Linked DNA regions of Homo sapiens. The protein of the gene in region 1 interacts with the protein of each later gene in a pairwise test. Each region holds a gene or a part of one and is shown in the gene's direction. Other genes may lie near its edges. The genes, in order: ANTXR1 and ASB10.

What was found.
Region 2: the proteins of ANTXR1 (region 1) and ASB10 interact in a two-hybrid assay, tested with the Homo sapiens proteins (one study listed by BioGRID).

Annotation. Positions count from the first base shown.
Region 1 is NC_000002.12:69,247,179-69,250,125, forward strand, and holds the end of ANTXR1 (anthrax toxin receptor 1 isoform 1 precursor), read left to right. Parts: 3' UTR 1-2,149; downstream 2,150-2,947. UniProt on the Homo sapiens protein: Plays a role in cell attachment and migration. Interacts with extracellular matrix proteins and with the actin cytoskeleton and thereby plays an important role in normal extracellular matrix (ECM) homeostasis.
Region 2 is NC_000007.14:151,184,203-151,191,907, reverse strand, and holds the start of ASB10 (ankyrin repeat and SOCS box protein 10), read left to right. Parts: upstream 1-4,657; 5' UTR 4,658-4,777; coding exon 4,778-5,093; intron 5,094-5,248; coding exon 5,249-5,516; intron 5,517-7,705. Other genes in the region: DRC11L (IQ and AAA domain-containing protein 1-like), read left to right, coding at 32-270, 821-928. UniProt on the Homo sapiens protein: May be a substrate-recognition component of a SCF-like ECS (Elongin-Cullin-SOCS-box protein) E3 ubiquitin-protein ligase complex which mediates the ubiquitination and subsequent proteasomal degradation of target proteins.

The DNA of each region.
Region 1 (2,947 bases):
GCCGCCACTCAACAGTCAGATGAACCCAACAGTCAGATGAGAGAAATGAACCCTACTTGCTATCTCTATCTTAGAAAGCAAAAACAAACAGGAGTTTCCAGGGAGAATGGGAAAGCCAGGGGGCATAAAAGGTACAGTCAGGGGAAAATAGATCTAGGCAGAGTGCCTTAGTCAGGGACCACGGGCGCTGAATCTGCAGTGCCAACACCAAACTGACACATCTCCAGGTGTACCTCCAACCCTAGCCTTCTCCCACAGCTGCCTACAACAGAGTCTCCCAGCCTTCTCAGAGAGCTAAAACCAGAAATTTCCAGACTCATGAAAGCAACCCCCCAGCCTCTCCCCAACCCTGCCGCATTGTCTAATTTTTAGAACACTAGGCTTCTTCTTTCATGTAGTTCCTCATAAGCAGGGGCCAGAATATCTCAGCCACCTGCAGTGACATTGCTGGACCCCTGAAAACCATTCCATAGGAGAATGGGTTCCCCAGGCTCACAGTGTAGAGACATTGAGCCCATCACAACTGTTTTGACTGCTGGCAGTCTAAAACAGTCCACCCACCCCATGGCACTGCCGCGTGATTCCCGCGGCCATTCAGAAGTTCAAGCCGAGATGCTGACGTTGCTGAGCAACGAGATGGTGAGCATCAGTGCAAATGCACCATTCAGCACATCAGTCATATGCCCAGTGCAGTTACAAGATGTTGTTTCGGCAAAGCATTTTGATGGAATAGGGAACTGCAAATGTATGATGATTTTGAAAAGGCTCAGCAGGATTTGTTCTTAAACCGACTCAGTGTGTCATCCCCGGTTATTTAGAATTACAGTTAAGAAGGAGAAACTTCTATAAGACTGTATGAACAAGGTGATATCTTCATAGTGGGCTATTACAGGCAGGAAAATGTTTTAACTGGTTTACAAAATCCATCAATACTTGTGTCATTCCCTGTAAAAGGCAGGAGACATGTGATTATGATCAGGAAACTGCACAAAATTATTGTTTTCAGCCCCCGTGTTATTGTCCTTTTGAACTGTTTTTTTTTTTATTAAAGCCAAATTTGTGTTGTATATATTCGTATTCCATGTGTTAGATGGAAGCATTTCCTATCCAGTGTGAATAAAAAGAACAGTTGTAGTAAATTATTATAAAGCCGATGATATTTCATGGCAGGTTATTCTACCAAGCTGTGCTTGTTGGTTTTTCCCATGACTGTATTGCTTTTATAAATGTACAAATAGTTACTGAAATGACGAGACCCTTGTTTGCACAGCATTAATAAGAACCTTGATAAGAACCATATTCTGTTGACAGCCAGCTCACAGTTTCTTGCCTGAAGCTTGGTGCACCCTCCAGTGAGACACAAGATCTCTCTTTTACCAAAGTTGAGAACAGAGCTGGTGGATTAATTAATAGTCTTCGATATCTGGCCATGGGTAACCTCATTGTAACTATCATCAGAATGGGCAGAGATGATCTTGAAGTGTCACATACACTAAAGTCCAAACACTATGTCAGATGGGGGTAAAATCCATTAAAGAACAGGAAAAAATAATTATAAGATGATAAGCAAATGTTTCAGCCCAATGTCAACCCAGTTAAAAAAAAAATTAATGCTGTGTAAAATGGTTGAATTAGTTTGCAAACTATATAAAGACATATGCAGTAAAAAGTCTGTTAATGCACATCCTGTGGGAATGGAGTGTTCTAACCAATTGCCTTTTCTTGTTATCTGAGCTCTCCTATATTATCATACTCAGATAACCAAATTAAAAGAATTAGAATATGATTTTTAATACACTTAACATTAAACTCTTCTAACTTTCTTCTTTCTGTGATAATTCAGAAGATAGTTATGGATCTTCAATGCCTCTGAGTCATTGTTATAAAAAATCAGTTATCACTATACCATGCTATAGGAGACTGGGCAAAACCTGTACAATGACAACCCTGGAAGTTGCTTTTTTTAAAAAAATAATAAATTTCTTAAATCAACTCTTTTTTCTGGTTGTCTGTTTGTTATAAAGTGCAACGTATTCAAGTCCTCAATATCCTGATCATAATACCATGCTATAGGAGACTGGGCAAAACCTGTACAATGACAACCCTGGAAGTTGCTTTTTTAAAAAAAATAATAAATTTCTTAAATCAACTCTTTTTTCTGGTTATTTGTCTGTTTGTTATAAAGTGCGACGTATTCAAGTTCTCAATATCCTGATCATAATACAGTGGTTGCTGTGCTATACATTAAATTACATTTCTCAAATGATTTCATGCCTTCCACTAATTTCTCTACTGTCTGGATTACTGTCATTTCTTCCTTAGCTGTCAGACATTCAAAATATTTTTTATTTCTCATAACAAATTTCAAATTAAAAATGTAATCCATGCTAAGAGAAAATAAGTAAAAAGTGAAAACAGAACACACAGGAAAAATATACTGCATCAGTTAGGATTGTGTTTGGCTAACGTAGCAGAAAGGCAACTAGGATTGATTTTACAAGGAGTCCAGAGATTTGCAGCAACCCAAGAACCAGACAGTGTTGTGGACAGTGCTGCAATAAATACCTTTCTATGTACATCTCAAAATCTTTGTATTGCTTCTGCATTTCTGATACAACTCACTTTATCCCTCCTAGCAGTTTTAATTCAGCTCCTCCATTTATTTTGTAGGTAGAAGAGCATCTCCTTCTAGTTCCTGAATTTCTTTGTAAGATCTCATTGAGCCTTGAATACATCTTAATTGGAATAAAACCATCCACAAACAGAAAGTCATGCCACAAGTCTTTTCTAAGTTTTCATTAGTATTTGCTTTTTAATAGGTATGGGTATGAACACATTTTAAAATTATATCTTTAATAATTGTGTTTTGGGGGTTATTTTGAGACAGGATCTTACTCTGTCACCCAGGCTGGAGTGCAGTGATGCAATCATGGTTTACTGCAGCCTC
Region 2 (7,705 bases), on another chromosome or scaffold:
TCCAGGCCCCATGTCTTCCACATGCCTGCAGTGCTCTGGAAGCGTATGATAGAGGCCCGGGGCATCCAGCCGACCCAGCACCTGGACATCAGTGCCCTAGCCAAGGTCTCCGATGGCTACACGCCGGGTCACATTCTCCAAGCCATCCAATCGGTGCTGAGTGAGCGGCGGTTCCTGCAACTGTCCAAGCGGCCCCTGGTGGCCTCTGAGTTCCTGGGACAACTGGTGAAGCTGGATCCAGTGTACAGGGAGGAGGAGGAGTCCCTGAAGGTGAGGTGGCAGGGCCAGGGGCTGTGGGTAAGCAGCGCCCTTGGGGAGTCAGCCCCCTGAAGCACAACTCGGACCCCTCTCTCTGCTCCCACAAATTACCAGAAGACAATCAGTGGAAATGTGTGTGGAGCTCAGCTGGGAAGGGAGCAGGAAATCACCAGGAAATGCCAAGGCTTCGGGGCCGTCCCACCTGGTTTCCCTGAGGGTGGGAGCTTGCAAGAACCACCGAGGTATCAGGAGCCCTTTGTGGGTTCTGGTAGCAGCTGCCACCCACCTTTCCCACCCCCGAGTCAGTGCCCCTGCCAAGGATGGCCTTGGGAATGCAGGAGAGAGGGCTGCAGGTGTGGAGGGAAGAGGGCTTGCCCACTAAGAACGGCTGACATTGTACCTGAAGCATTTGGTGGGGAGCAAGGGAAACCCCAGCACTAATAGGACCCCCAAACCCAGGAGGAGAGGAGAAGAGGCTGCTGAGGAAACAATCTGTAAAAGGGGGAGGGGTGAGGTCAGGATGGGTCTGAGGGCCTTACCACTCCTGTACCCACCAACCCAGGACTGGTACTTCAAGACCCCACTGGGCAAGAAGAGCATGAAACACAGGATGGACCAGTTGGAGGCCGAGGAGGCCAAGCTGGACAAGGAGAAGAAGAAAAGGAAGTGATGGCTAAGGCTTGCGGGCACCTGAGATTAGTGGCGTGGGACAGGGCAGTGGCCCAAGGGTAAAGGGATGGGGCAGAGGCATAAATGCCCAGATGACTTGGGAACAAACTCTTCTTGTCCATCCATGTCCGTGTCTTCCCACCCTTCCCTCTGTGCCCCCACCTGTGCCTGGCGCTGTCTAGCCCACACCTCTCTCCTGGGCCCTGGCCCTTGCCAGCTCACTGCCACCTCCTTGCTCTGCCTCCTAGATCCCTGTCCTCAGCCCCCACTTCCAGGTCTTCATCTCCTTGTCATTGTCCTATCCTGGCTCCCTGAATCTCTTCCTCCTTGAGGTATTTAAGGGAGAAAAAATAGGAAGAGGAGAGAGGGAAAGAGAAGAGTAGGGAGAAGGAAGGTCTGCAGTCAGATAGAAAAAGCACAGGTCTGGAAGTTAACTGTCCCTGGTTCTAAATGCACTTGGCACTAACTCCCTGTGTGACCTGGAGAGTGCTTTCCTGTCTCTGGGCCTCAGTTTTCTTACTTATAAAGCAGAGAGAGATTGGACCAGGAATTTCTAAGGTCCCTTTTACTCTAGGGTTTGACTATTGTAGCAAAAGTGTCTGGGAAGTCAGGGCAGAGAGGTGCTTGGGGAGTGGCGGGGGCAGGATGGGAAGCAGGGCTCAGCAGAGGTGTGGGGAAGCGGTAGGGCTTTGTGACTAGGGTAAGGGCTGCTAGTAGACCCAATGCTGCAATGGACATGGGAGAGCAGCATTGGATCGACCCAGTTTCTCAGAGTGGCCTTCATCTCTTTCCTCTAAAGACCTGTCCCCTGGCACTCTGCCTGCCCCAGCTGTGCACTGCATCCTCTGACCACAGCCTAACCCTCAGGGCTCAATGGGATAGAGCCTCCTGCCCCTGGGGTGGGAGTCCATCTGTGGGTTTCCCCTTGCTGGGGAGGGAACAGCTCAGGGGAGAACGGGGTCAGAGAACTTAGGGAGCAGGGGCAACCATACCACCAAGGGCTGGTGAGCCCCAGAGTGTTCTCTTGAAAGAGGCAGACCCATGGACCATGTACACAGTGTGTGGATGAAGGCCAAGGTGTGTCCACAGGTAGTAAGAGACAACAGGAGACCTGAAACTATAAAACCCCTAGAAGAAAACATAAGGGAAAGCTCCATGATATTGGTCTGGGCAGAGATTTCTTGGATATGACCTCAAAAGCACAGGCAATGAAAGCAAAAGTAGATGAATGGGATTGTACCAGACTAAAAGGTTTCTGCACAGCAGAGGAAATGACAGAGTGGAGAAACAATCTACAGACTGGGAAAAAAATATTTGCAAATCAAACATCGGATAAGGGGTGAATATCCAAACTACACAAGGAACTCAAACTACTAAATAACAACAACAACAACAAAATACCCCATTAAAAAATGAACAAAGGACTTGAACAGACACTTCTCAAAAGAAGACATACAAATGGCCAACATATATTGGAAAATATGTTCAACATTAGTAATCAGAGAAATGTGAATCAAAAACCATAATGAGATATTATCTCACACCTGTTAGACTGGCTATTATTGAAAAATGAAAGATAAGTGTTGGCAAGGATACGGAGAAAAGGGGACTCTGCATGGTTGGTGGTGTTGTAAATTAGTACCATTTTGAAAAATAGAATGAAGGTTCCTCAAAAAACTAAAACTAGAATTACCTTATGATTCAGCAATCCCACTACTGGGTATATACCCAAAGGAATTGAAATCAGCATGCAGAAGAGGGGTTTGCACCCCCACGTCCACTGCAGCACTACTCACAATCGCCAAGAGATGGAAACAACTGGTGTCCATCAATAGATGAATGGATTTTTAAATGTGGTGTATCTGGAGGACATTGTGCTAAGTGAAATAAGCCAGGTGCAGAAAGACAAATACCGCATGATCTTGCTTATTGTGGAATCTAAAAAAGTCAAACTCATAGAAGTAAAGGGTAGAATGGTGATTCCCAGAGGCTGGGGGCTCGAGGGAGGTGGACAGGGAAAGGGAAAGGGAAGACATTGGTCAGTGGGTATGATGTTACAGGTAAATAGGATAAGTTCAGGTGTTCTATTGCACAGCAAGGCGACTGTAGTGAATAATGATGTACATTTCAAAATGGCTAAAAGAGGATTTTAAATGTTCTCACCACAGATAAATGGTAAATATCATTTGATAGATGTGATAATTACCCTGATATGATTACACATTATATACATGTATCAAAATATTATAGCCCCATAAATATATACAATTATTTGTCAATTAAAAATGAAACTTTTTAAAAAGCAATTGATTTAAAAAAATTTTTTTAAGCCAGCGTGAGCCAAAGGGGCAAGACCAATGGGGCTGGAGCACCTCAAGCCCATGGTGGGCAGTGGTGGGTCAGAGCTGAGCCCGAGGGCCTGGTTTCTCATCTTCTTTCTCTCTTTTTTTCCTTTTGATCCACCCGGCCCCCAAACAAAAGTCAGTGCCTGAGTACACAGAGACATTTCTCCTTTCTCACTCTCTAGTGAAGAGACCCCATGTAACCACAGCAGGGGAGAGATGCCACCCAAGGTCATCCAGGGAGATGGGGGGGTTGGCATCAAGGACGAGCATGGGGAGTTTCTGTGGCTTGCCTGTGGGTTACGCTCTGTTACTCAGGCACACGTCTGTCTAAGGGAGCCCCCTGAGGGGTGCCTCACACAGCGAGGGCAATCTGTGTCACTACTGTGAACTCCTCCCTTGGTTTGGGAGTGGGAAGGTGCAGGGCTAACAGATGACATTTGGAAGGGCAGGAAATATTATCTGGCACCCACAGGCCTTCCCAGTGGGATCAGAGCCCAGGCAGCTGGAGGCCGATTTGGTGAACAAGAAAGAGCTCAAGGCCCTGGGTTCCAGTCCTGGCTCTGCAACAAGCTCTCTGCGTGATCTTGGGAAATTCACTTCCCTTTAATGCCGAGATGACGGACTGGGCAGCATGGTCCGGGTGGTCCCTTTCCACCCTGAGGTCATACAGCCCTGGGGTGAAGCTCAGGGTTGGCGGGCTCAGGCCTCACTTGTTCTCCTGCCCCTCCCTAATTCCCCCACCCGGCCTGACTGACAGCTGGGCCAGTCAGGGCTATTTATGGCTTTGCCTGATGTTGTGCTCCCCTGCGCCTCCCATGCTGGGCCCCACCCAGCTCGGGCCCAGCACCCACCTGCCCAGTCCACCAGCAACATCGCTGGGAGTCGTGCTGCTTTGGCTCTCCCAGAACAAGCCATGCCCTGGGGAAAGAACTCCTCTCCCCACTGGGGACACCATCTGGGGTGCCTTCCCTCCGCCCCGGCCTGCCGGATCTGGAGGCCCCACTCCCGCCCAGCCTGGGAGCCCCCTCGGCCATCACCACTGCTCTGCCAAGACATGGCCCTGCAGAATGCCCTCTACACCGGGGACCTGGCAAGGTTGCAGGAGCTGTTCCCCCCGCACAGCACAGCCGACCTGCTGCTGGAGAGCCGGGCCGCAGAGCCTCGCTGGAGCAGCCACCAGAGGGGTGAGGGGCATCTGGGGGTTGCTGAGAACCAGGGGGCTGGGCTGACTGCCTCGGCCACAGAGGTCCTAAGGGCTTGAGTGAAAGGAGAAGCCCCCGGCTGTTTCTCCCCGACCTCAAAGCTTGCCCAATAGCCTACACCTTGGCCCAAGAACACAGTCATGTGGAGCCCAGAATAGCTCCTGCTGGATGCGTGGCCAGGTCAGCCTCGGAGCGTGGGACACAGGGGCCTTCTGTCTGTCTGTATTTCCCTCCTGCTCTCTCTCTCTCTCTCTGCCTTTGGCATATACCTCTCCTCCTCCCCACTCCCCTTTCCCTGCCCACATGCTCATGAGTTGGTCTCCAGAAGAGTGCAAGGGGCAGGGAGAGCCCCTCGATGACAGACACCCCCTCTGTGCCAGGCTGGTGGAGAAGCCCAGCAGAGGGTCTGAGGAGCACCTCAAGTCTGGCCCGGGACCCATCGTCACCCGCACAGCCTCAGGACCTGCCCTTGCCTTCTGGCAGGCAGTGCTGGCTGGGGACGTGGGCTGTGTCTCCCGCATCCTCGCGGACTCCAGTACTGGCCTGGCTCCTGATTCCGTCTTTGATACCAGCGACCCAGAGCGATGGAGGGATTTCCGCTTCAACATCCGTGCTCTGAGTACGGGCCGGGGCACTGGGGGCTCTCAGTGGGAGAGAGGGGAGGCTGCAGATGGAGCTCTGGGCTCCCTCTTCCTGCCTCTGCCCACCTCACCCCATTGGCTGGAAGGTCTCTGCCTTCCCTGGGGATCTGAGGCCCACGTCTCCCCTCCCTAGGACTCTGGTCTCTGACATACGAAGAGGAGCTGACCACCCCACTGCATGTGGCAGCCAGCCGTGGCCACACGGAAGTCCTGCGGCTGCTGCTGAGGCGGCGAGCAAGGCCAGACAGTGCCCCTGGGGGCCGCACCGCCCTGCACGAGGCCTGTGCTGCAGGCCACACTGCCTGTGTTCATGTGCTGCTGGTGGCAGGAGCCGACCCCAACATCGCTGACCAGGATGGGAAACGCCCCCTGCATCTCTGCCGGGGGCCTGGCACCCTTGAGTGAGTGACCCCTCACCCCAACCCCCAGTTCCACTCTGAAGGGAAGCAAAGAGGCCTTCTCAGGGAGGATGGGGGAAAATGTCAGGGACCTGGGACAGAGCAGTCCAGGCTTGGGGCGCGGGTCAGGGTGCAATTACTTCCCAAGCCATCCACCCGTTGACCCCATGAACTTTGGAGTGGCCTGGACTTTGGACAGTTTTCTGGTCTCCCAGGGGTGGAGGGAGGCTGTGGCAGGGGTGCAGTTGCATGGCCCGCATTGGGAAATTGCCTGGCTCCATTATGGGGAGGTGGTGTTGCTTAAAATTTTTGAAAACACTTTCTGAGCTTATCCTATGTTCCAGGCACTGTGCTAAGCACAACAGCAACTAAGTCCCTGAGGCCCTGCCCTCAGGGAGCTTACTGTCCAGTGATCCAGACAGGGAGTAGAGGATGGTGGCCCCAGTGAGGACCTGCCTGGGTCCCTCTGGGTAGGGTCTGGTTTTCCAAGACAGGTCTAGAATCTCCATATTGGTAGGGCACCCTCAGATCATGGGCTCAAGGGACTCTCACTAACTAAACTCCCAAGAAACTGATGAATACACCCAAATGTGCCAATGTATCATTTATTGTAGGGAATAGTCCTTTGCAGTGACATAAATAATTGCAACCCAAGTGTAAGGAACGTTGTAGGATGGGATCCCAATTACAATTTTGTGAACTAACTCTACATCCTATAGAGGCCCTCTCTCTACTGACTGCACACCTGCAGGTCTTGTCTCTTGCCTCTGAAAGGTGCCAAATTATTGACCCTGGGGTTCTCCTTTCATGGACCCTCTCCTTCTTGTTAATCTCATCAGCCTCTAGAGGATTCCACAGGCTTAATCATACTATGGTTGAAGATGTGTTCTTTACTAGCGTGGCCCAGTGGAAACCTAATGTGAGCCATATATGCAATTTACAGTGTTCTAGCAGCCCTATAAAAAAAATGACAAATGGCCGGGCACGGTGGCTCACACCTGTAATCCCAGCACTTTGGGAGGCTGAGGCAGGTGGCTTGCTTGAGGCCAGGAGTTCGAGACCAGCCTGGCCAACATGCCCAAACCTTGTCTCTACTAAAAATACAAAAATTAGCTGGGTGTGGTGGCAGGCGCCTGTAATCCCAGCGACTCGGGAGGCTGAGGCAGGAGAATTGCTTAAACCTGGGAGGTGGAGGTTGCAGTGAGCGGAGATTAGATTGCGCCACTGCACTCCAGCCTGGGAGACAAAGTGAGACTTTGTCTCACAAAAAAAAAAAAAAAAAGACAAATATGTAAAATTAATTTTCAAAATGGTGGTAAAATATACATGAAATTTGCCTTTGTAACCATTTTTTATTTATTTATTTATTTTTTGAGACGGAGTCTTGCTCTGCCGCCCAGGCTGGAGTGCAGTGGTGCGATCTCGGCTCACTGCAAGCTCCGCCTCCCGGGTTCACGCCATCCTCCTGCCTCAGCCTCGCGAGTAGCTGGGACTACAGGCCCCCGCCACCATGCCTGGCTAATTTTTTGTATTTTTAGTAGAGACGCGGTTTCACAGTGTTAGCCAGGATGGTCTCAATCTCCTGACCTCGTGTTCTGCCCGCCTCGGCCTCCCAAAGTGCTGGGATTCCAGGCACGAGCCACCGTGCCCGGCCTTTTGTAACCATTTTTAAGCGTACAGTTCGATGGCATTAAGCACATTCATGTTGTTGTTCAACCATCGCCACCATCCATCTCCAAACTTTCTCATCTTCCCAAACTGAAATTCTAACCCCATCAAACACTAACCACCCACCCCACCCTGTCTCCCAAGCCCCTGGCAATCACTATGTTACTTTCTGTCTCTGAATGTGAACACTCTGGGGACCTCACATAAGTGGAATCATGTGGTATTTGTCCTTTTGTAACTGGCTTATTCCACTTAGCATGATGTCTTCAGACTTCACCCATGTTGTCCCATGTTTCAGAATTTCCTTCCTTTCTTTTTTTTTTTTTTACTCTGTCGCCCAGGCTGGAGTGCAGTGGCGTGATATCGGCTCACTGCAAGCTCCGCCTCCCGGGTTCACGCCATTCTCCCGCCTCAGCCTCCCGAGTAGCTGGAACTACAGGCGCCCACCACCGCACCCGGCTACTTTTTGTATTTTTTAGTAGAGACGGGGTTTCACCGTGTTAGCCAGGATGGTCTCGATCTCC